Regions from separate parts of the Homo sapiens genome. Here regions 1, 2 and 4 are each linked to region 3. A link means that fine-mapping ties the variant in region 3 to the plasma level of a protein whose gene starts in the linked region. Region 3 holds a variant in brackets. A gene starts in each other region. All regions are shown on their reverse strands.

The links. PIP is the posterior inclusion probability: the model's chance that the variant is causal. Protein levels are from antibody-based Olink assays in UK Biobank. Linkage for the fine-mapping came from a reference panel and not from the study's own genotypes, which makes the PIPs less certain.
Region 1: FCRL5 starts here. The variant in region 3 is fine-mapped to the plasma level of the FCRL5 protein (UK Biobank, PIP above 0.99).
Region 2: LY96 starts here. The variant in region 3 is fine-mapped to the plasma level of the LY96 protein (UK Biobank, PIP above 0.99).
Region 4: QPCT starts here. The variant in region 3 is fine-mapped to the plasma level of the QPCT protein (UK Biobank, PIP above 0.99).

What each region holds. Positions count from the first base shown.
Region 1 is chr1:157,549,965-157,555,110 of GRCh38, reverse strand. FCRL5 (Fc receptor like 5) reads left to right here and starts at 2,596. Exons shown (of 17, transcript NM_031281.3): 1 at 2,596-2,779. The coding sequence starts at 2,749.
Region 2 is chr8:73,988,534-73,993,679 of GRCh38, reverse strand. It overlaps LY96 (lymphocyte antigen 96), which reads right to left and starts at 2,288. Exons shown (of 5, transcript NM_015364.5): 1 at 2,126-2,288. The coding sequence starts at 2,237. RefSeq lists enhancers at 1,507-1,576, 1,947-2,046.
Region 3 is chr17:7,557,098-7,562,219 of GRCh38, reverse strand. It overlaps TNFSF12-TNFSF13 (TNFSF12-TNFSF13 readthrough), which reads right to left. Exons shown (of 11, transcript NM_172089.4): 7 at 2,518-2,596; 8 at 2,327-2,374; 9 at 2,053-2,171; 10 at 1,732-1,870; 11 at 619-1,496. The coding sequence ends at 1,387. It overlaps TNFSF12 (TNF superfamily member 12), which reads right to left. Exons shown (of 7, transcript NM_003809.3): 7 at 4,339-5,121. The coding sequence ends at 4,870. It overlaps TNFSF13 (TNF superfamily member 13), which reads right to left and starts at 3,470. Exons shown (of 6, transcript NM_003808.4): 1 at 2,923-3,470; 2 at 2,518-2,596; 3 at 2,327-2,374; 4 at 2,053-2,171; 5 at 1,732-1,870; 6 at 619-1,496. The coding sequence starts at 3,180. The coding sequence ends at 1,387. SENP3 (SUMO specific peptidase 3) reads right to left here and starts at 301. Exons shown (of 11, transcript NM_015670.6): 1 at 1-301. It also overlaps SENP3-EIF4A1. RefSeq lists a silencer at 158-237 and enhancers at 798-1,047, 3,422-3,471, 4,282-4,341, 3,927-4,720. The variant T/C (reference allele first, on the strand shown) is at 2,568.
Region 4 is chr2:37,340,612-37,345,751 of GRCh38, reverse strand. It overlaps QPCT (glutaminyl-peptide cyclotransferase), which reads right to left and starts at 1,122. Exons shown (of 7, transcript NM_012413.4): 1 at 901-1,122. The coding sequence starts at 1,020. LOC124907754 (a long non-coding RNA gene) reads left to right here and starts at 697. Exons shown (of 2, transcript XR_007086284.1): 1 at 697-2,025; 2 at 5,025-5,140. RefSeq lists a silencer at 692-751.

The sequences.
Region 1 (5,146 bases), not on the chromosome of region 3:
GTAGATATTAAAAGGTCAGTAAGGCCGGGCATGGTGGCTCACGCTTGTAATCCTAGCACTTTTGGAGGCCAAGGCGGGCAGATAACTTGAGGTCAGGAGTTTGAGACCAGCCTGGCCAACATGGTGAAACCTCATCTCTACTAAAAATACAAAAATTAGCTGGGCATGGTGGCAGACACCTATAATCCCAGCTACTTGGGACGCTAAGGCAGGAGAATCGCTTGAACCTGGGAGGTGGAGGTTGCAATGAGCCAAGATCGCACCAGTGCACTCCAGCCTGGGGGACAAGAGCAAAACTCTGTCTCAAAAAAATAAAAATAATGGTCAGTAAAACAAAAAAGTATTATATTTCTATATACCAATATACATTTAGAAAAAAATCTAATGATGTCACTTACAATATCATAAAAAACATATCAATAACCTAAGGATAAACCTACCAAAAGATATACTTTCCAGAGGCAAAGCTATAGAAAATTACTGAAAGAATGTCAAGTTAACCTAAATAAATGAGGGGATATTGTATGTTTATGGATTGGGAGACTAAATCTTTTCTAATTTATACAAATTAACTTATAAATCCAATGCAATCCCAGTTATTAAAAATCTACTAGGCTTTTGGGGAGAGAGGGGACAGGAATTGACAAGGTGATTTTTAAATGTATAGAAAAATTCAAAAAGCCAAAAATAGCCATAACAATTTTGAAGAAGAACAGCATTTTATGACTTAAACTATCAGTTAATAAGAGTTATTATAAAGCCACAATAATTAGAAGAGTGTGGTATTGGCATGAGGATAGACAAAATAGACTAATGGACAAGAAAGGAGTTTCCAAAAATAGACCTACATGGCTTTTTGTTTTATAACAAAGGTGAAATTGCACTGTACTGTGGAAAAAATCAACTTTCAATAAATAGGGCAGGATAAATTATCTGTATTTAAGTTAAAAGTGAATATAAACACTCAAACTGTACACAAAAATCAATTGCAATGCTCTTATAAATATAAAATAAATGGTAAAAAATAAAGTTTCTAGAAGATAACCTGGGAGAGTATCTTTATGATCTTGGAGTAGACTAACTTTCTTAGAAGGGATGCAAAAATCTCTAACCACAAAGGAGAAGACTGATAAACTGGACTATGTCAAAGTTAGAATGGTTGTTCATCAAAAGGCACTATCAATGAGCAAAGAAGCAAGCCACAGATTGAAGGAAGACATTTGCAATACATATATCCAACAAAAGGTTTATATTCAGGGTTTAAAATAACTACAAAACAGGAAAAGAAAGACTGAAAGTTAAGAGAAAAATGAGGAAATATTTGAACAGAGATTGCACATAAAAAGGATATCTACATCACCAATTAGACTATGAAAAAATGCTCATTCTCAAATTCACCAGAGACATACAAATTAAAACCACATTGAGATAATTCTAGCAGAACGGCCAGATTTTACTAGATGACAATACCAATATCAGCAAGAATTTTAGAACAATGATAACTCTCATACATTGGTTGGTGGGTGTGGTGGGAATTGGCACAACCACTTTGGAAAATAATTTGGTAATACTTCCTAAACTGAATATATGCATACCTTATGAGCCAGGACTTCCACTCCCAGATATATACCCAACAGAATTATGTGCGCATATGCCCCAATAAATGTATACAAGAATGTTCATAGCAGCACTATTTGTTTTAGCACCAAAAGTAGGTAAAGATTCTGTGTTCCCTTTGAAGTTCTCCTCTTAATCTCTATTCACCCCTGTAACCCCTGTATGGTTTTCTTGCCTCAGGGTGCAGTGGGTCAGATGTGACATAATATACCTAAGGTGATGTGCATTTGTAGATATAAAATTAAATGCCCCCTTAGGAAGACCAAGGTATGGGCCCAGAGAGAAAGGGTGAGAAAATATTTGAAAGAAAGAAACTGGCACTCCTCGTGGCAGCTAATGTCTTAGGAACCTCTGTTGACCAGTATACCAGGATGGAAACTTGACTTTTAGAAAATCATAAGAGCTATACATTCACCTGGTAATTTTTTAAAAAATCAAACGGTACAGAAATACATAAAATAAATTGTGTTCTTCCCACCTATTGCTCCTCAAACATAATCAATATTTTTGTGTGTACTTTCCAGGAAAAGAAGAAAGTATACTTAAAAGAGTTGATGTACACATATATCCTATTTTTTATATTTACCCAATGGGATAATACTACAAAACCAATCTATATCTCACTTTTATTCTCTTCACATCAAACAAGGTGGTCTTCCCTTCTTGGCATGTTCAGATTTACCTTATTCTTTAATGATTGCTTGTCACCATACGGATGAATCAGAATATTCTTAAACAGTCCCCATATCATGGTTTTTTGTTTTGTTTCCAGTGTTTAGGCAATAATGAATGCTACAATAAACGTTCTTATAGTACTCTCTTCAGATACTTCCTTCAGGGTAATTTCCCAATAGCAAAAATGTAGGGTCAAGGGTATTTGATTTTTTAAAACCTTAACTTTTTTTTTTCTTTGATCATCGGGTAGGAAACTGTGATTAGCAGCTGAAGACGGGTACTCCCACTTCCTTTTTTCAATTCACTAATGCATTCTGCTCTTTTTGAGAGCACAGCTTCTCAGATGTGCTCCTTGGAGCTGGTGTGCAGTGTCCTGACTGTAAGATCAAGTCCAAACCTGTTTTGGAATTGAGGAAACTTCTCTTTTGATCTCAGCCCTTGGTGGTCCAGGTCTTCATGCTGCTGTGGGTGATATTACTGGTCCTGGGTGAGTAAAAGGGCTCACCATGGGCCCTGGGTGGGATCGGGACAGCTTCTCTCTCCACCGCAGGCCTGGTCCTTTCTTGGGGCTCAGCCCCTGCTGAGAGACTCTCTCCTACATTAGGAGACTGTATTTTTGAACTTTACTCTGTAGCTCAGGGCTTTCTCTTGAGGCTGAAGAAAATGGCCACAGCTGGAAGGAATTTTCAATCTTACAGAGTAGGAAACCACAATAACCACAACAATTAAAATTTCATTTATTTTTTTCTTTAAAAAGTACTTCTTAAAGTCCAGAGAATGTTTCATGTTTGTTTGTTCATATTGTCTTACTCATAGAAGAGCCCACTCTCCTCTCTGCAGAGGAGATGTATTTATTCCTTGTATGACAAGGCCAGATCCTGGTCCCCAGCATAAGAGGCAAGGTTTCTAACGGGAAAGACAGGTCTTTCTCTTGTACATAATTGCAAACCACTGCAGCAATTGGCTGATTAAGAACATGGGGTGGAGGAGGTCGCAGAGGCGTAGGTGGACAAAGCAAGGATAAATCTAAAGCATATGACTTTCTCTTTGTCCCTGTGGGTGTACGTAAGTCTCTATCAACTCATATGTGCGAACTGGTTGATTTTTACTAAAGGTTAAATATTATAATTAAATATGTTTATTTATTTGTTCAGCAAATGTGTTTAGTAATATCTATGCACAGGTGCTGAGCAATTAGAGTCCATAGGAGACACTACGTCTATGTTCTGGAAAGTCATGACATAGAAGGGCTCCCAGCAAGGCCAATGTACTTTCAAGCAGCTATGCAACAAGCTCCCAGTTAAATAATTGTCCAGGCAAAGTTACCAATGAATGCTGTAGGCAGATAATAAACTGTATTCAAAATAGCTAGTAAAGACTTCATGAAACTTAGAGGTGAGTAGGAGCTAGAGGAGCAGAAATGGAGCAGGCGTGATATAAGAAAAGAGGACCTCACAGTTGGAAGGTGCATGGACTATAATTCCTGAAGTAGGAATACATCTCAGTGTGGCCCCACACAATGTGGGTAATGGCCAGGTCCTGAGCATGAGAGGGCAAAGTTTATAACATGGGCTCTGGGGTCAAACAGGATCTAGGTTCAAACTTCATCTTGCCACCTACTGGCTACCAGATTCCTGGTCTACAAAATGCAGTTAATCCTAGTGCTTACCTCACAGGATTATTGACATGGTTATATGAAATAACCTACGTAAATGCAGACCATATAGAAACCACTCACAAAAATATTAGCTTCATTTAAAACAATGCAAAGATGAAGGAAGCCAAAATATTCAGGTGAATGGTGAATAATTTGTTGTTCTCAGTAAAACACTTAAGTTTGGATAAGTCTCCAATAGCCTCATGTGGACAGGGATGATTTGTCTCTCACACACTCCTGGATTTCTATTGCCTTGCTCTGGAGTATGATTGGCATTCCAAAAATCTGTTGAATAAATAAATCAACCCATATGCAGAATACCTACTCAATTGATAAACCTGCCAGTTTTGTGTCCTCTCTCTCTTCATTACCCATTTCTCAAATCTCTATCCTTCTATTCCTATATTATTAACCTAGTTCTTTAATTAATTCATTATACAACACAAATATATTTAGTGAACATTAAAGGAATATCTTTTATATGCCATTCACCGTTATAGGTCCTGGAGGATATATGGTGAACATAAGGAAAGTCCTAGGTCTCATAGAGCTTGCATTATAGAGAAGGGAAAATAAACAAGCAGATAATGAAGATAATTTGGATAAATACTCTGACAAAAATTACACATTACCATCTCTTGGGCTGAGCATCAGGTCTAAATAATCTGAGCATCAGTTGATTGTTTAAAAATTAGGCATGATGATAATGAGCCCTTGGATTCAATGATCTCATGAAAAGAGTATAGCCTGGAGTCTGGTGCCCAAGGGAGGCTTAATTCATGTCCATTTCCTTGCCCTGCCTTCTAATCAGTCTCCCTGCTTCATATTGTCCCATTAAATTCTGTCCACTGACAGAGTGCTCCATCAAAGTCTGAAATTCTAACCTTGTCAATCTCCTCCTTGAAACCATTCCATGACTCCTTATCACTTTTATAATAAAATTAGAACCACTTACTCAGGCCCTGCATGCTTCTCTGGTCTTATTTCCCCCAACACTCCCAGTTCCTGAGCACCAATGTCATTTCTCCACTTCTGTGCCCTTTCTACCTTGAAAGGTAGAAATCGCCTCTTACCACACACAAATGCTAACATCCACCTGCAGACTCATGTTCTCACTCACAGTTTTGTGAAGTATCATCTCCTTCAGGTACCTTCAAGGATCCACCCATCCTGTTCAACACATGTACACACAAACAC
Region 2 (5,146 bases), not on the chromosome of region 3:
CCTGAGGTCAGGAGTTGGAGGCCAGCCTGGTCAACATGGCAAAACCCTGTCTCTACTAAAAATACAAAAATTAGCTGGGTGTGGTGGTGGGCACCTATAATCCCAGCTACTCGGGAGGCTGAGGCAGGAGAATCACTTGAACCCAGGAGGCGGTCGTTGCAGTGAGCCAAGATCATGCCATTGCACTCCAGCCTGGGCAACAAGAGTGAAACTCAAAAAAAATTATTTAATTAATAATTAGACAAGTGTGGTGGCATGTGCCTGTAGTCCCAGCTACTTGGAAGGCTGAGCTGGGAGGATGGCTTGAGCCAGGGAGGTGGAGGTTGCAGTGAGTGGAGATCATGCCACTCACTCCAGCCTGCACAACAGAGCAAAACCCTGTCTCAAAAATAAATGATAAAATAAGATAAAATGTGAAATGTTTTAAAAAGACAAATTGAGTTATTGTTAAGAAAAGATTGAAAGCTAAATAATAATACAAAATGTTACATCCATAAAAACCATATAAAGAGTGGCATAAACCGGGCAAGGTGGCACACGCCTGTAATCCCAGCACTTTGGGAGGCCGGGGTGGGCAGATCACAAGATCAGGACATTGAGACCATCCTGGTCAACATGATGAAACCCTGTCTCTACTAAAATACAAAAAAAAAAAAAATTAGCCGGGTGTGGTGGCGCACACCTGTAGTCCCAGCTACTCAGGAGGCTGAGGCATGGGAATCGTTTGAACTTGGGAGGCAGAGGTTGCAGTGAGCCGAAATCGCGCCACTGCACTCCAGCCTGGCAACAGAGCAAAACTCTGTCACACACACACACACACACACACACACACACACACACACAGTGGCATAATTAGCACATGGTACAAAAGAGCCAAAGGAGGAGAGGGAAGTGGGGGCCAAGTAGAGTAGGAGCCTTGCTGGAAGAGGGGAATGCAAAAGGATCTTGCAGCATGGAGAGATTTTAGACATACGTTTGGAGGGAATTCAGTGCAACCCACCAGGAGAAGGGCCATGGTGTGTGACTGGCCACACTCCTAAGTCTCCTCCTCACATGTGGCAATTATCCCAATTTCCCGAAAGTCACTTTATATTAGCATTTGGCAGAGCATGTTTCTCAAGAGAGTTAACATACACTCCAGACTAAAACACAAACAAACAAACAACAAATGAAATTGAAAATGTGGTTAAACAGGTGCCTTTATTGCAGAACTTCTCAGAACCCAAAGTACATCTGTAAATCTCTCCCAGATGATTAGGTCATAGATCCTATTTTCCCAAAAGAATCTCAAAGAACTGGTATTTTGGGAAGCACCACTTTAAACCTCCCAGCTATTGCTAGTGGGTGGAAAAGGGCAGCCAACCCATGGTAAGCAGCACGGTGGAAAGTACCGAACCAAAACAGCTGTCAGGCCTGACACTGTGCCTTCAGATCCCAGGACACTTGCTAATGAGCAGCTGGGGCAGGGGACAGTGACACAGCCAGTGAATAGTATTAGGGTATGGCTGACTCCAAAAAAAAATTAAGAGTATTATTGTCTCTATGTGACCCTATGCTAAAAAACTTCACCTCACAACACCCTTATCAAGTAGACTATAAAATCACTTTCACTTCAGTGCTAAAAAGGCTGGAGTACTTTGCTTAAGGTCACACAGCTAGTGACAGAACCAGGCTTTCATCCAGTGAGGGGGATGATTCCAAGAGCACTCAAGAGTCACAGCTTAGAGCAGAAATCAACTCCAGGAAGCAGCTGGGACTGCTCTACCATCTCAAGAAGAAGAACTAGTAAGTGTCAAGGCTGAGGTGAAAGCTCAGAAGCAGATGGTTTTATTAAAAATGGGCAGAACCAAAAACTGGGCTCAGGGTAGAGAAAGATGACGCAGGGAACAGAAGCACTTGGAGGTCAAGCACAACACAGTTTAGAGACTCACAAGCTCTGTGAGTGGTCGAGAACATTCTCATGGGGCAGCTGCCAGCTATTGCTTTTCCTGCTGGCAGCGTCCGCCACAGCAGCTGGAACACACTGATGTTTCGTGTGTTCCAGCCACAACAGTGTACGGTTCTCGTGAAAACTTACCCTCAAAATAGTTGATGCTACAATTATTTGTTTTGCGGTTTTACTTACCACAGTAGGTGTATGAAATACTTGCATCGGATGAGTTGCAGACCCAATACTGCTTCTGAGCTTCAGTAAATATGGAAGAAAACAGGGTGGAAAAAAACAGAAATGGTAACATGATTCAATATCTCCAAAGCTTTACAAATGCAAAGAGGATCAGTAACTAATCATCAGACTCTTCCTTTTCAGTAAGCAGAAAAGATTTAACTTAGTCATCAGTCACATGATTTCTGAGTTCCTATCCAACTGTTTCCTCTTTTTTTGTGTGTGTGTGCTCAACATTTGAGCACTTCCTGTAAAGGAAGAGAGAAAAATGATTTAGAATGTACTCTTCAAACACTTACTGTAAATGAGAGTGATCAAAGACTTAAAAATAAAACAAGACACTTTGGCCAGGCACGGTGGCTCATGCCTGTAATCTCAGTATTTTGGGAGGCTGAGGCAGGTGGATCACTTGAGGTCAGGAGTTCAAGACCAGCCTGGCTGACATGATGAAACACATCTCTACTAAAAATACAAAAATTAGCCAGGTGTGGTAGTGCATGCCTGTAATCCCAGCTATTCAGGAGGCTGAGGCAGGAGCTTCACTTTATCTGGGAGGCAGAGGTTGCAGTGAGCCAAGATGGCACCACTGCTCTCCAGCCTGGGCAACAGAGCAAGACTCCATTTCAAAAAAATTTTTTAAATGAAAAATAAAATAAAATAAACAAGACAATTCCCAGTCAACTGTAACAAAACCAGTCCCTAGGTCCCCCTGAAAGTCTCAACAGACAGGCACTCCTTTTCCCTCTGCATTATTCTTCTCTCCTACAGCTCTGTATAACAGCAGTCCCCAACATTTTTGGCCTCAGGGATCAGTTTCATGGAAGACAATTTTTCCACGGACTGAGGGGATGGGGAGGGATGGTTTCAGGGTGAAACTGTTCCACCTCAGAACATCAGGCATTAGATTCTTATAGGGAGCACGCAACCTAGATCCCTCGCTTGTATACTTCATAACAAGGTTCCTGCTCCCATGGGAATCTAATGCTGCTGCTGGTCTGACAGGAGCTGGAGCTCAGGTGGTAATGCTCGCTCACCTGCTGTTAACCTCCAGCTGTGCAGCCCACTTCCTAACAAGCCACAACCAGATTCCTAACAGGCCATGGACTGGTACTGGTCCACGGCCCCCAGAGGATGGGGCCTCCTGCTTTATAAAACAAATTCTCAGCTGGGCACGGTGGCTCATGCCTGTCATCCCAGCATTTTGGGATACCAAGGTGGGTGGATCACTTGAGGTCAGGAGTTCAAGACCAGCCTGGCCAACATGGTGAAATTCCGTCTCTACTAAAAATATAAAAATTAGCCAGGCATGGTGGCACACACCTGTAATCCCAGCTACTCGGGAGGCTGAGGCAGGAGAATCGCTTGAACCCAGGAGGCAGAGGTTGCAGTGAGCCAAGATTGGGCCACTACACTCCAGCCTGGGCAACAGAGTGAGACTCGGTCTCAAAAACAAACAAACAGGCCAGGCGCAGTGGCTCACCTCTGTAAATCCCAGCACTTTGGGAGGTCAAGGTGGGCGGATCACCTGAGGTCAGGAGTTTGAAACCAGCTTGACCGACATAGTGAAACCCTGTCTCTACTAAAAATACAAAAATTAGCTAGGCATGGTGGCAAGTGCCTGTAGTCCCAGCTACTCAGGAGGCTGAGGCAAGAGAATTGCTTGAACCGAGGAGGTGGAGTTTGCAGTGAGCCAAGATTATGTCACTGCACTCCAGCCTGGGAGACAGAGCGAGACTCCATCTCAAAAAACAACAATAACAACAACAAATCAAATTATCATGGCCCAGAGAGCTGCACCTATAGATCTGAAGTAAACAGTCTCATGGAAACTATTTCTTTTCAGCAGCAGGTTTAGTTACAGGACAGAACAGGGCCAGATAAGACCCCAAACAGGGGACACTAGCTGTAATTCTGTGCTGTGGGCAGGGACTCCACCAGTCTTAATAATGTATTCACCTACAACAAGCTAGAGCTCAAGAGAACATTTTGAGTCCTAATAATGAAATGTCATCCTTTTGTTATGACATGTATTTCATTTCAAAACTCTCACTCCATTTTAGAAAGACAGCTATTCCTTTAGATATCTTGCTACTTGAAATCCTTTACAGGATATAGCTTAGGGTTAGCAGCCAAAAATGGCATGGAGTTTTGGCCTAAAAATCTGCACACTTAAGAAGAAAATAATCATACGTTGGTAAAAATATTTTACAACAGAAGTGTGATTTTTTCCATTTTTTTAGAGATAAAGTCTCACTGTGTTGCCCATGCTGGGGTGCAATGGCTATTCTTAGGTGTGATTATAACACACTGCAGCCTCAAATTCCTGGGCTCAGCTGGGACCACAGGTTTGAGCCGTGGCTCTTGGCCCTGCCATTTTCAAAAAGGCAAAAGTCCAAGGGAGGAGGGGGAAATGGGGAGTTGTTCAATGGGCATAGAGTCTCAAGCTGACAAGATGAAAGAGTTCTAGAGATCTGTTGCACAACAAGGTGAATATAGTTAACACCACTGAACTCTATGCTTAAAACTGGGTAAGATGGTAAATTCTTTAAAAAACACAATTTTAAAATAAATTTAAAAGATGGAAAAAAAAAAGACAACCACCCATGAACACCCTTAGTGGTCTCAAAATACCATTTCCCACTATAAGCAACCAGGACTCCTTGGAGTCTGGGGTAGAAAATGTACAAAATGAGCCTAAAACACTTTGTTATATTAGATAACCAATTTGAAGACGGTTCCACTGAGCAAAGATAGGTGTTTCTAGTTTCCTATAATGGCTGTAACAAATTGCCAAAAGATTTTGTGGCTTAAAACAACATAGGCTGGGCACAGTGGCTCATGCCTGTAATCCCAGCACTTTGGGAGGCCAAAGCGGGCAGATCACCTGAGGTCAGGAGTTCAAGACCAACCTGGCCAACATGGTGAAACCCCATCTCTACTAAAAATACAAGAAATGAGCCAAGCATGGTGGTGGGCATCTAT
Region 3 (5,122 bases):
CCGGCCTCAAGCTTCCCGGCTCATCTCTCCGGCGACGGCGGCGGCCCCGCCACTCCTGCTGTCTTTAGGCGCAGCCGTCTCAATTCAGGATTCCAACGCTTCTGGGCCGCGTGCCGCGCCGCCGAGCACCCCGCCGCGCCGCCTCTGGCTCTGCTTCAGCTTCAGCTTCCACCTCCACCTCCACCTCCGCCACCGCCGCCACCAGCGCCACCGCCGCCGCCGCCACTCCTCCCCCCCTCCTCCTTCCCCTCCCGCGAGCCCCGGGCCCACCGGCAGCGGTGGCGCACGATTAGTACGTCACACCCGGCGAAGAGCGCCGGCGCGGCCACCAAGCGCGCGGTCCCGTCTACCCGAGGACGCCGGCGCCACGGGACTGGCCAGCCCAGAGCGCTACGCGAGGCTGCGCCTGCGCACATCCGCCGCCCGGCCGCGCGTGGCGGCCCCGCCACTTTCCCTTTTGCGCCGCGCTCTGTCTTCTCCGCGCTCGCGGGCCTGACCCTAGCGGCATCCCCAGTACCTTGATCCGGCGGGGGGCGCGCCACAGGAGAGCCAGGAGGGCGGGAGATCCCCGTACGAGGACCGGGCTGAGGCGAGGCAGTGGGGGAAATGGAGCCGGGGTATCATTCATTCTATTTTATTTAACTTTAAGCAGGGCTTGATCAGAAAGAAGAGCTCAGAGGAGTGAGGCAACACCAACACCAGGGCGTACGATACACCCGAGGCTCCTCCGACACCAGTTCCAGCCCGGAAGGGCTTGGAATGGCCTGCCACGCCGGGGCAATGGAGCGCGTGAAAGCCAAACCTTGGGACCCGAAGAGTAATTTGACTGCGAAGGCACCGTCATCGTCGGGCACCCCCTGTAGACGGGCGCATAATAGCTACATCTCTGGAGATAGTGATGGAAACTGGGGTCCGATAGATGGAGAGAAGGACGTAGGATAAGGCTTCTTGTGGGGTGAAGAGGCAGAGGGCACCTGGAGAGAGGTGTGGCATGGAGAACCAGGGGTTTTCCCTAGCAGAGGGCGGCTTCGTGGACTTCGGCCAACCGGCGGGTGCTTCCCTCGAGCGGCCGCTAGATGGTGGTGCTGTTCTGGATGCTTCCAGTGGGCCCCGACCAGGTCTGGACAATGCCTGGCGCCCGTCCCCCGCCCCTCATCTACACACACGCAAGAATTCGGAGCTCCATGGGGAACAGAAGCAAGATATCCGTAAAATCAAAGTCTAGGGGGTGGGAATGAAAAGGGAAAAGTGAGGAACGGGGAGCCAAACCCAGGAAGACGCCTCTGTTCCTGCACATTCCCTCTCCTTTATATACTCAGCTCTTGGCTGTCTCCAGTATGTACCCACCCTGGTCTTCCAAGCTGGGAGCCACTTTTTATAACACAATCACAGTTTCACAAACCCCAGGAAGGTTCCATGTGGAGAGAGGTTAAGTTTCGCCCTTGCCCGGGGAATTATGACACTCAGAATATCCCCTTGGTGTAAATGGAAGACACCTGAGAAAAGAGAGAAAGTAGATTCGCAGTGAAGCACAGCCATCCAGATGCCCTGTTTCCCCCTGCCTTCTCCAGCTCCACCGTTCCTCTGCCTCCTGTAAGGACCCGGCATTCTGCACTTCACTCCTCAGACCCGCCTCTGTTTAGGTTTCCAACCTCCCTCCTAGCGGTAGCTCCCTGCACTGCTACCCCCGGTCAGAGACGTCCTGCTTTCGGCTGCCCACACGGCTCTCACCTGCGCTATAGCAGCTGTTGTAGGCCCGGTCCGGGTGGGAGGGCATACTTCTTATACATCGGAATAGAGTCTCCTGCCTTCCTTGGCCTTCTCGAGACACCACCTGACCCATGGTGAAAGTCACGTCTTGAAACAGGACCTGGCAGGGAAGGGAGATGTTGAAGAAAACAGGATGGCCTGGCTCAGTTCTGGGAGGCCTCAGGAGCGCTAACGAGGGAAGAAAGAAGGGTCTGCTGGGTTTGGTATGAATAGAGGGGTCAGGAACCCTCAGTAGGGGGCCAAAGAGGCCCTCTGTGAAGCTCAGAGTGTGGCTGGGGTTACCTGGCTATACAGCAGATAAACTCCAGCATCCTGGATTCGGACACCATATCCTTGGGCCTGTAGGCCTCTCCCACGCCTAAGAGCTGGTTGCCACATCACCTCTGTCACATCGGAGTCATCTGGAGGTGAGAGTGTGTCGGTCAGGACTTCTTGGCACTCTCAGGTGCTTTTTGGTTCTTTCCCTTTCACCTATAAGGACCCCTTGAGCCCAAGTGCCAGCCCGAGTTCCTGGTTATTGCCCCTCCCCAAAGCCATTATTTAAAATAGTGCTCACCCTTGGAGGTGGCGTTAATGGGAACCAGGTGCAGGACAGAGTGCTGCTCTGAGGAGAGAAGGAGGGAATCTCAGCCGCATCCACTTTCCCCCGTTGTGCTGTTGGCAGCCTCCACCCTCACCCTGACTCGGGCTTACAATCCCCACGCTGCTTGATCACCTCCCACCCCTGCTGCACCCTGGAAGCCTCACTCTTCTGTTTTTGGGTGAGCACTGCTCTCCTTTTCCGGGATCTCTCCCCA[T/C]TCTCCCAGGCTTCCAGGGCATCGGAACTCTGCTCATGGAAAGAGGGTCAAGGTTAGGTTAAGATGCGAGGGTCCCAGCCAGCCTGCCTTCCCAGCCCTCCCCTGCCCCCGAGATGCCTCAGATCTCTCACGCACCTTTTCCCAGCACCCTGAGTGTTGGTGCTGGCTGCCCTCCAGGATTTGTTAGGTATGAGAAGCATTAACCTTTAACAGTTTCCTTTCCTGGAATGGCCGCGCCCCTGACTTCCAAACCGGAGACCCTCTCTTGCACCCCCTTGAAACTTTGCAGACCAGGAGGCCCAGAGACCCCCCATGCTAACCATCCTCTCCCAGACACCCTCCTCCCCTCACTCACCTGCTCCGGGAGACTCTGCCAGGGATACCCTTCCCCATTCTGGGAGGGGCCTCCTGTCCCCTGCAGCCGGCTCACCTCTCTCCTGAGGCTCTGCAGCTCTGTTTGTTGGGTCAGCAGAGCCATGGCACAAGCCACGGCCCCCAGAGCTGCCCCCCAACTCAACCAGAGGGCAACTGAGAGTGCCGGCTCTCTGACTGGGCCCCCCATGTTGCCTGGAGGCCCTTTGGGGGCTAGCAAGAAAGGAGATGAGGCTGGCATGAGCTGGGGACCCTGCCAACAGCTGTGGTTTCAAGAGTGGGGTAGCAAGGAGGTGGCGGGGCGGGTAAGGGTACGGGCAGTGGTGCAGAAGGGAAGAAGGTTGTTACGCAAGGAGAAATAAAAAGGAACTTGAAAATAAAAAGGAGGGAGGAGGAAAGCAAGCTAAGGGTACTGTTAGTGCTCCTGGCACTCCGTCGTGGGGCCAGCGTTGCCTTGAGACCCTCCACCCTCCCTCAGCCTCAGGAGAATTAGGTTCCAGTCCCTCTAGGAAGGACAGGGCTGCCAGTGACACCCAGGAGGAACAGGCAGTGCGCAGGAACCCTGGGGCGGCCCCAGGGTTGGGGGAGGGAAGGTTGGCTGGCTAGAGGGCATTGTGCCAGGAGCAGGATGGGGGGCCAAGCTGGGCAGTGTCCAGGGTCAGGGCGAGGGTGGAAGACCCTCGGGGTCAAGCACAGCAGAGATCGCTGGGGCAGTTCACTAGGGGTGACTGAAGGTGGGAAAGGAGGGGTGGGCTCGATGGGGAGGAGAACCAGGGGCACGGAAGCAAGAAACTGGCTGAGTTCTGGGGTTAAGGCTGGGCCGGGTGTGTTGGAATAAGGCCTGCACTACTCCCTGTGCTGAAATTGGCAAGCAGGACTTCCTGTTTCCCGAGAAAAGCTCTTACATAAGGCTCTGGACGAAGAGACAAAGCAGCGGCCTCAAGCCCCCCGGCCACTGCGGGATTCCTCCCCAGCACACAGGGTTCCGGGTTCCCGTGTGCCTGCTGACTCTCAGCCCCTCCTCCAGGCTGGCTCCTGCCCGCCCCACCTCCCAGCCAGGGCCTGTGCCAGCACCTGCTGAATGTCCGAGGCCACCAAGAGGAAGGGCCCCTGCTCCTCCCAGCCAGGAAGGGATTTCCCCGCAGGAGGAAGTCTGCCTCCTAGGCCAAGGAGGCCGCTTCTGCTGTACCTTGGGCGGAGGATTGATTTTTTTCCTGGGCAGTGTGCCTTCCTACCTCTGCTCCCACCTGGGGGCTGGAGGCATGGAGGTCCCCGCCCCCAAGCCTGAACATCATCCCGGAGTTCCAGCTGTGCCGCTCCGCAACGCCCCCCTTCACGTGGCCCCCAGCTACCCTGAGAGTGTCCCCTGAGCCCCAATAAAGAGAGAGACTATGACTTATTCTATTTAATATCCATTTATCAACATTTTGTCACAATAATAATAAAAATAATATCTGTTTTAAAAATCCACAGGGAATTCTCAAGGGAGGAGCTTGTCTTGTTTCTCGCCCCTCACATTTGGGAACTCCTGGCCTAGGCCCAGTCTCTTTGGCTTCCTGCCGCCAGGTCCAGCCCCTCTTAGTGCCTGAAGTGGGGTCTTCTGGACCCATCCTTGCCCACAGAGTACAGTGAACACAATGCCCTGGGGGTCTGTGGCCAGGGGGGAGTCGAGATCACTGGGGGCCTCAAAGGGTCAGGGATTGGGGAGCTAGTGAGGTGGAGAGTGGGCGGTGGGGGAGTTGTAAGATAAGAGTGGGAATACTGTATTTATGTGGGATGGAAAACACGTGAACAGGCCCAGGCAGCCTCTAGAGGGAGGGGCAGGTCTGGAGCAAAGAGCGGCTGAGGGTGGGGCAGAGGGGACCGGGTGCCCAGAGAGCTGTCGAGGGGAGCCGGCAGCCTGGGACGACTGCGGGGAGACCAGGGCCCCTCAGTGAACCTGGAAGAGTCCGAAGTAGGTGAGGAAGGGGGCAGCCTTGAGATGGGCCCAGGGGAGGGTGCGGATCCGCAGGGAGGACCCTGGCCGCAGGGCCAACAGCCCAGACACCTGGCAGAGGCGGAGCTGGGGCCCGAGGGAACTCGCCGCAGTGGCTGAGAATTCCTCCAGGCAGCGCAGGGCCAGCACACCATCCACCAGCAAGTCCAGCTTCAGGTAGACAGCCTTCCCCTCATCAAAGTGCACC
Region 4 (5,140 bases), not on the chromosome of region 3:
CCATTCTCCTGCCTCAGCCTCCCGAGTAGCTGGGATTACAGGTGCGTGCCACCACGCCCGGCTGATTTTTTGTATTTTTTAGTAGAGACAGGGTTTCACCATGTTAGCCCTGATGGTCTCGATCTCCTGACCTCGTGATCCACCCGCCTCGGCCTCCCAAAGTGCTGGGATTACAGGCGTGAGCCACCCCGCCCGGCCGAACCCATACACTTCTTACAGAGGGAACTTGCAAATCACTTTTATCCTAAGTTCCTTATATGCGATTTCTACCTACAACTAGATCCATTTTCTCTGAAAATAGCAGGTACCCTCTTTTAAGTGGAGGAAAAAGGCTTTTGAAGTAAGCAGGTCTCCAGTAAAGGTCCTTCCTGCCGAGTTGCTCCTTTTAAAAATCTAAAACAAACAACACACATCCGTCCTGAGACTGTAGGGACACTTCAGCGCCCCAGCAGCATCCTTGGATGAAGCAGCGGGGGGGCTGTGGGCACACCCCCAGGCGCACCCCGCACCCTAGCGGCCCCGGAGCGCCGGCCCCGTTGCCCTCCAGGGTCCCGAGTGGGGGGTGGCGCCGCGATGCGCCCTCGCCTCCCGGCTCAGCAGCCGCCGGCGAGACACATTTCCTGTGCCTATCAGCACCCCCATCAGACCGCAGCCCAGGAGAGGCCAGTGACATCACCCAGCCCCCCTGGCGTCTCCAGAACAGCCCCGGACTGGCCGAGGCACCCCGGCGAGTATGCAGAGCCCCGACTCCTCCGGGCGCCGGGTGGGGCGCCGGTGCCTGGGCTGGGGACCGTGGCCCTGCCCCGCCTCCCGCTCTGCCTAGGTAGGGCTGACCCGGCCAGGGGTCCTCGCATCGGACCAGAGCCGCTCAAGTACAACTACGCAGAAACAGCCCCTCACCTTCTCCTCTGGCCAGGCTGAGGCACTCGGACTGACCCCCCTGGATGCCCAGGGCAGGGCGGCCACCAGCAGCAGCAGGTGGAGGGTGCCCACGACGCGCCGGTGTCTTCCGCCTGCCATCTCTCCGAGTCTGTCTGGGAGCGGGTTCCCCGGGCCGCTGGCGGTCACGAGCCCGGGAACGCGCGTCCTTCGCCTTCCCTCTTCTCCACCCTTGGGTCGACTGCGCCCGCCTTCCCATCGCCCCCGGGTAGCCTCCCGCCGCGTCGCGCAGGCTGCAGCCCTCCTACCCCGGACCTTCGCAAACCCCGGGGCTGGGCGGCCCTGGGTGACAGACACAAGCTTCTGAACCCAAGCTAACAAAGGCGGCCACTTCCTTCTCTTGGAGAAGATGAAAGGAAGGAAGCAAGAGACATGGAAGAGCCTTTTTATGATCTCCAATGCCAAAACAGGGAACAGAAAAGGGAGGAAGGGTTCACCAGACCCTGGGGAGTTATGAAGTGTTTCCCACAGCTCCTAAAGAAGGGGTGGACAGGGAATCGACGTCTGCTGAACACGGCACCAGGCACCGTCCTAGGTGCTTGTCCAACCTTCCCGGATTTAATCCACTAATCCCATTTTACAGACGGGGAGACTGAGACACCCCCCCACCCCCCATAGAAAGCCTGGACTGGAACCCACAAGCAAAAGTATGACAGTGGATCTTTGCCTTTTCTCTTTTTTCTCACAAATAGTTGCCTTGCCTCACATCATACTCTCAAATTGAAAAGGATGGTCAAAGTAATTATCTGAAATAATGAGATCTACAATATTCACAGCGGCTCTGAAGGAGTCATCTTCTCCAAGGCATGGCCCCAAAAGGAAAAGCCAAACACAATTCTATTTACTTTGTAACATCAAAGGTCATTGTTATCCAGATAATCCTAGGGCAGGAAAACATTTCAGTTTTGTCTGTAGGTTTCTGGTCCAAGTTGTCAGGACAGTGACTTTCACCAGCCTCTTTTGCTTCCACAGTGAGGATCAGGGCTTGGCCTGCTCTGAGTCATCTCCCAGTAACATCTAGTTCCCAGAAAAATCAGAACAAGGATACTGAAGCAGAACCATTTCACAGAGAGCAAAGATTTGAAGGTAAGGAAGCTGCCAGAAGGCCCACCCACTCACTCTGTCTTCCCAGCCTTGGCTATGAGTTTTTAAAGAGAGGGCTTGCCTGGAAATACACTGTTCTGCCCTCCTCTGGAGCTGTAGGAGAAGACAGGATGTAAATAACTCCTTTCCTGGTGTACAGATTTGCTAACCCTATTCATGTCTGAGAGTTTTGAGTGACAATTTAAATCTCCAGGCTTAAATAAAATTAAATACACCTTTATTAAACCCACAGACAGTTCTGATCATCGGACCCCCTTCAGAACTTTCTACTGGCTCCAGTTTCAGAACTAAACCACTGTCACATTCCCCAATACAGCTCCTCTCTTGCTGCCTGGGTCAACCTTGAAATAGTGCATTTCCTGAGTGGCTGGGTAATAAAGAGCCTATTTGCTTTTTTTTACCCTATTACCTTTATGTCTTTTCACAATATGGTTCCTATAAGAAAGAGAACGTGGAAATAGCAAACCTAAATGAAACAAAATGTGAGAGGTACTATCATGCTAAGTATGAGCAATTCAAAACAAGAAATATAGAAATAAGCTAAAATGTCAGCACATAACGTAATGATGATTTTGTTTCCTAAGTTTCTCCAATTTTGGTTATATTTAAGTCAATAAGATGTTCTTACAGTTTGGTATCTACAGGAAGCAGACTCTGAGACAAGAGTTTAACATGCAGGATGTGTATTAGGGAGTGCCCTTGGGACAAACCCCTGTGGGAGGAAGAAGGGGAACAGGAGAGAACAGAGGGAGAAGTTAGCAGCAAAGCGGGCCCAACAACCTCACCCAACTCCATGGGAGTCCTGAAGCTGAAAAAGACGGTCAAAGTTGTCCCATACTGGGCCAAAATGTCTGGGGCCTTATCTCTGCACCTCCATGGAGTGATTTCCTGCAAGCGGCTTTCCAGCCAAAAGAGCTTGACTGCTAGAGGCTGTGGGCCAGCCGGCCTCCAACAGCTGGAGCAGGGTCCTTCCCTGGGGGCAGATCTGGGCAGCGCATCTCCTGTATCCACCACAAACGTATTGTATCTGGTACAAATCTAAAACATTCCACATAGCTAGTGAGACTGATTTCAATACATTGGTTTTTTTTTTACATGTAAGCTTTTCTGCCAACTTTCCAAGAATCTACAAATCCAACACCACTATGTATGTATCACTTCATTCCTTATGCATATCTTTTCTAGTGTCTTACACACTAAATACCCTTTTCCTTTCCTTCGCTCATTCTTTTCTCTCTTCCTTCATTTGGGAAACGTTTAGAAATACCTTATATCTGCTATTTTTGCCCTACTTCAACTTTTCCTTTCTTCAAACTCTTCCCATGGAAGATAACTAATGACTTTTCCATTTTAATTAAAGTTTCAGACCCTGTTTTTCATCATGGAAAAAATGTGTTGTATATACAGTGATAACACTGTTCTCAAGTGGAGAAATTTTTACCTCCATTATAGTATAGATTCCATACTGTGATGTGAAGGAAATGAAGGACCCAATTGCCAAAACAGATCTTCTCCATGAAGCTGCCATGGCAGGATGTTCCTACACCCAGTCCCACCTTTAAAGTGGCGCCATTAGATCAAAGTAGTAATGACCAGAAGGTTCTATTAAAACAATAGTTTTCAAAAGTGTGGTCCATGGATACTGGGGATTCCCCAAGACCCTCTTGGCTGTCTCCAAAGTCAAATCAACTTTTATAATAATACCAAAACAAGATTCATTTTTTCTACTGTATAGACTTTGCACTGATGTTGCAAAAGCAATGATGGGTAAAAATGCTGGCACCTTAGCAACTGTCAATACAGGACACAAAACTGTACTATTGAGGAGGAAAATCTATACTTGTAGTCATTGTGTTTTTCTTTCTTTCTTTCTTTTTGGAAGGAGTTTCACTCTTATTTCCCAGGCTAGAGTGCCATGGTGCCATCTCGGCTCACTACAACCTCTGCCTCCCAGGTTCAAGCGATTCTCCTATCTCAGCCTCCTGAGGAGATGGGATTACAGGCATGCACCACCATACCCTGCTAATTTTTGTATTTTTAGTAGAGACAGGGTTTCACCATGTTGGTCAGACTGGTCTCGAACTCCTGACCTCAGGTGATCTACCTGCCTCGGCCTCCCAAAGTGCTGGGATTGCAGACGTAAGCCACCATACCCAGCCATCTTAGTATTTTTCACTGCCACGCATAAAGAAAAAAAAAAAGAAGAGGACGATAAAAGAAAAGAAAAAGAGCCAGTTTCACTTAAGAATGTCATTGATGAAGTAATAAAATTGTTGTTTTACTGCCTTCTGAAGCTGTCTCTCCATGAAGCTAGATTTTAAATCTAGCAGGACAGAGTACAGGAGGAGAGAGAGCTCCTCACGTCTGCGTTTTCATCTCATGGAGACCACCAGCTCTGTGTGGACTCCTCCTACCTGCACTGCATCCTGGAAACTCTCAAAGCAGTAAGCTGGAGAAAACATCAGGCTCATCTCATTTCATTTTCCCTTTTCTCACCACTTTCCTGTGATACCTCTTTTCCAATATTTAAGCATCATTTTAAAAATTTTTATACACTTAGAGAGTACAGGAGCAGTTTTGGTACATGGATATACTGCATAGTGGACAAGTCTGGGCTTTTAGTGTAAGCATCACCTGAAAACATAGTATACATTTACCCATCAGGTAATTTCTCATCCCTCCTACCCTCCCACCCTTCCAAGTCTCCAATGTCTATTATTCAGCTCTTCATGTCATTGTGTACACATTATTTAGCTTCCACTTATAAGTGAGAACATGTGCTAGTTGAGCTGTTTCACTAAAGATAATGGCCTCCAGTTCCATCCATGTTGTTACAAAAGACAAAATTTTGTTATTTTTAATTGCTGGTAGTATTCCAGGGTGTGTGTGTGTGTGTGCGTGTGTGTGTGTGTGTGTGTGTGTGTGTGTGTGACGTTTTCTTTATCCAATCCATTGTGAATGTCATTTTTAATATATTTTAGGTGGGATGACAAATCCAGTTCCATCTTAACTGGAAGCACAAATTGAGAGTATGCAGCTCTTTATACTCACATGGGAAAATAAGACGTAGAAATCAAACACTTCTGCTGCACACCAA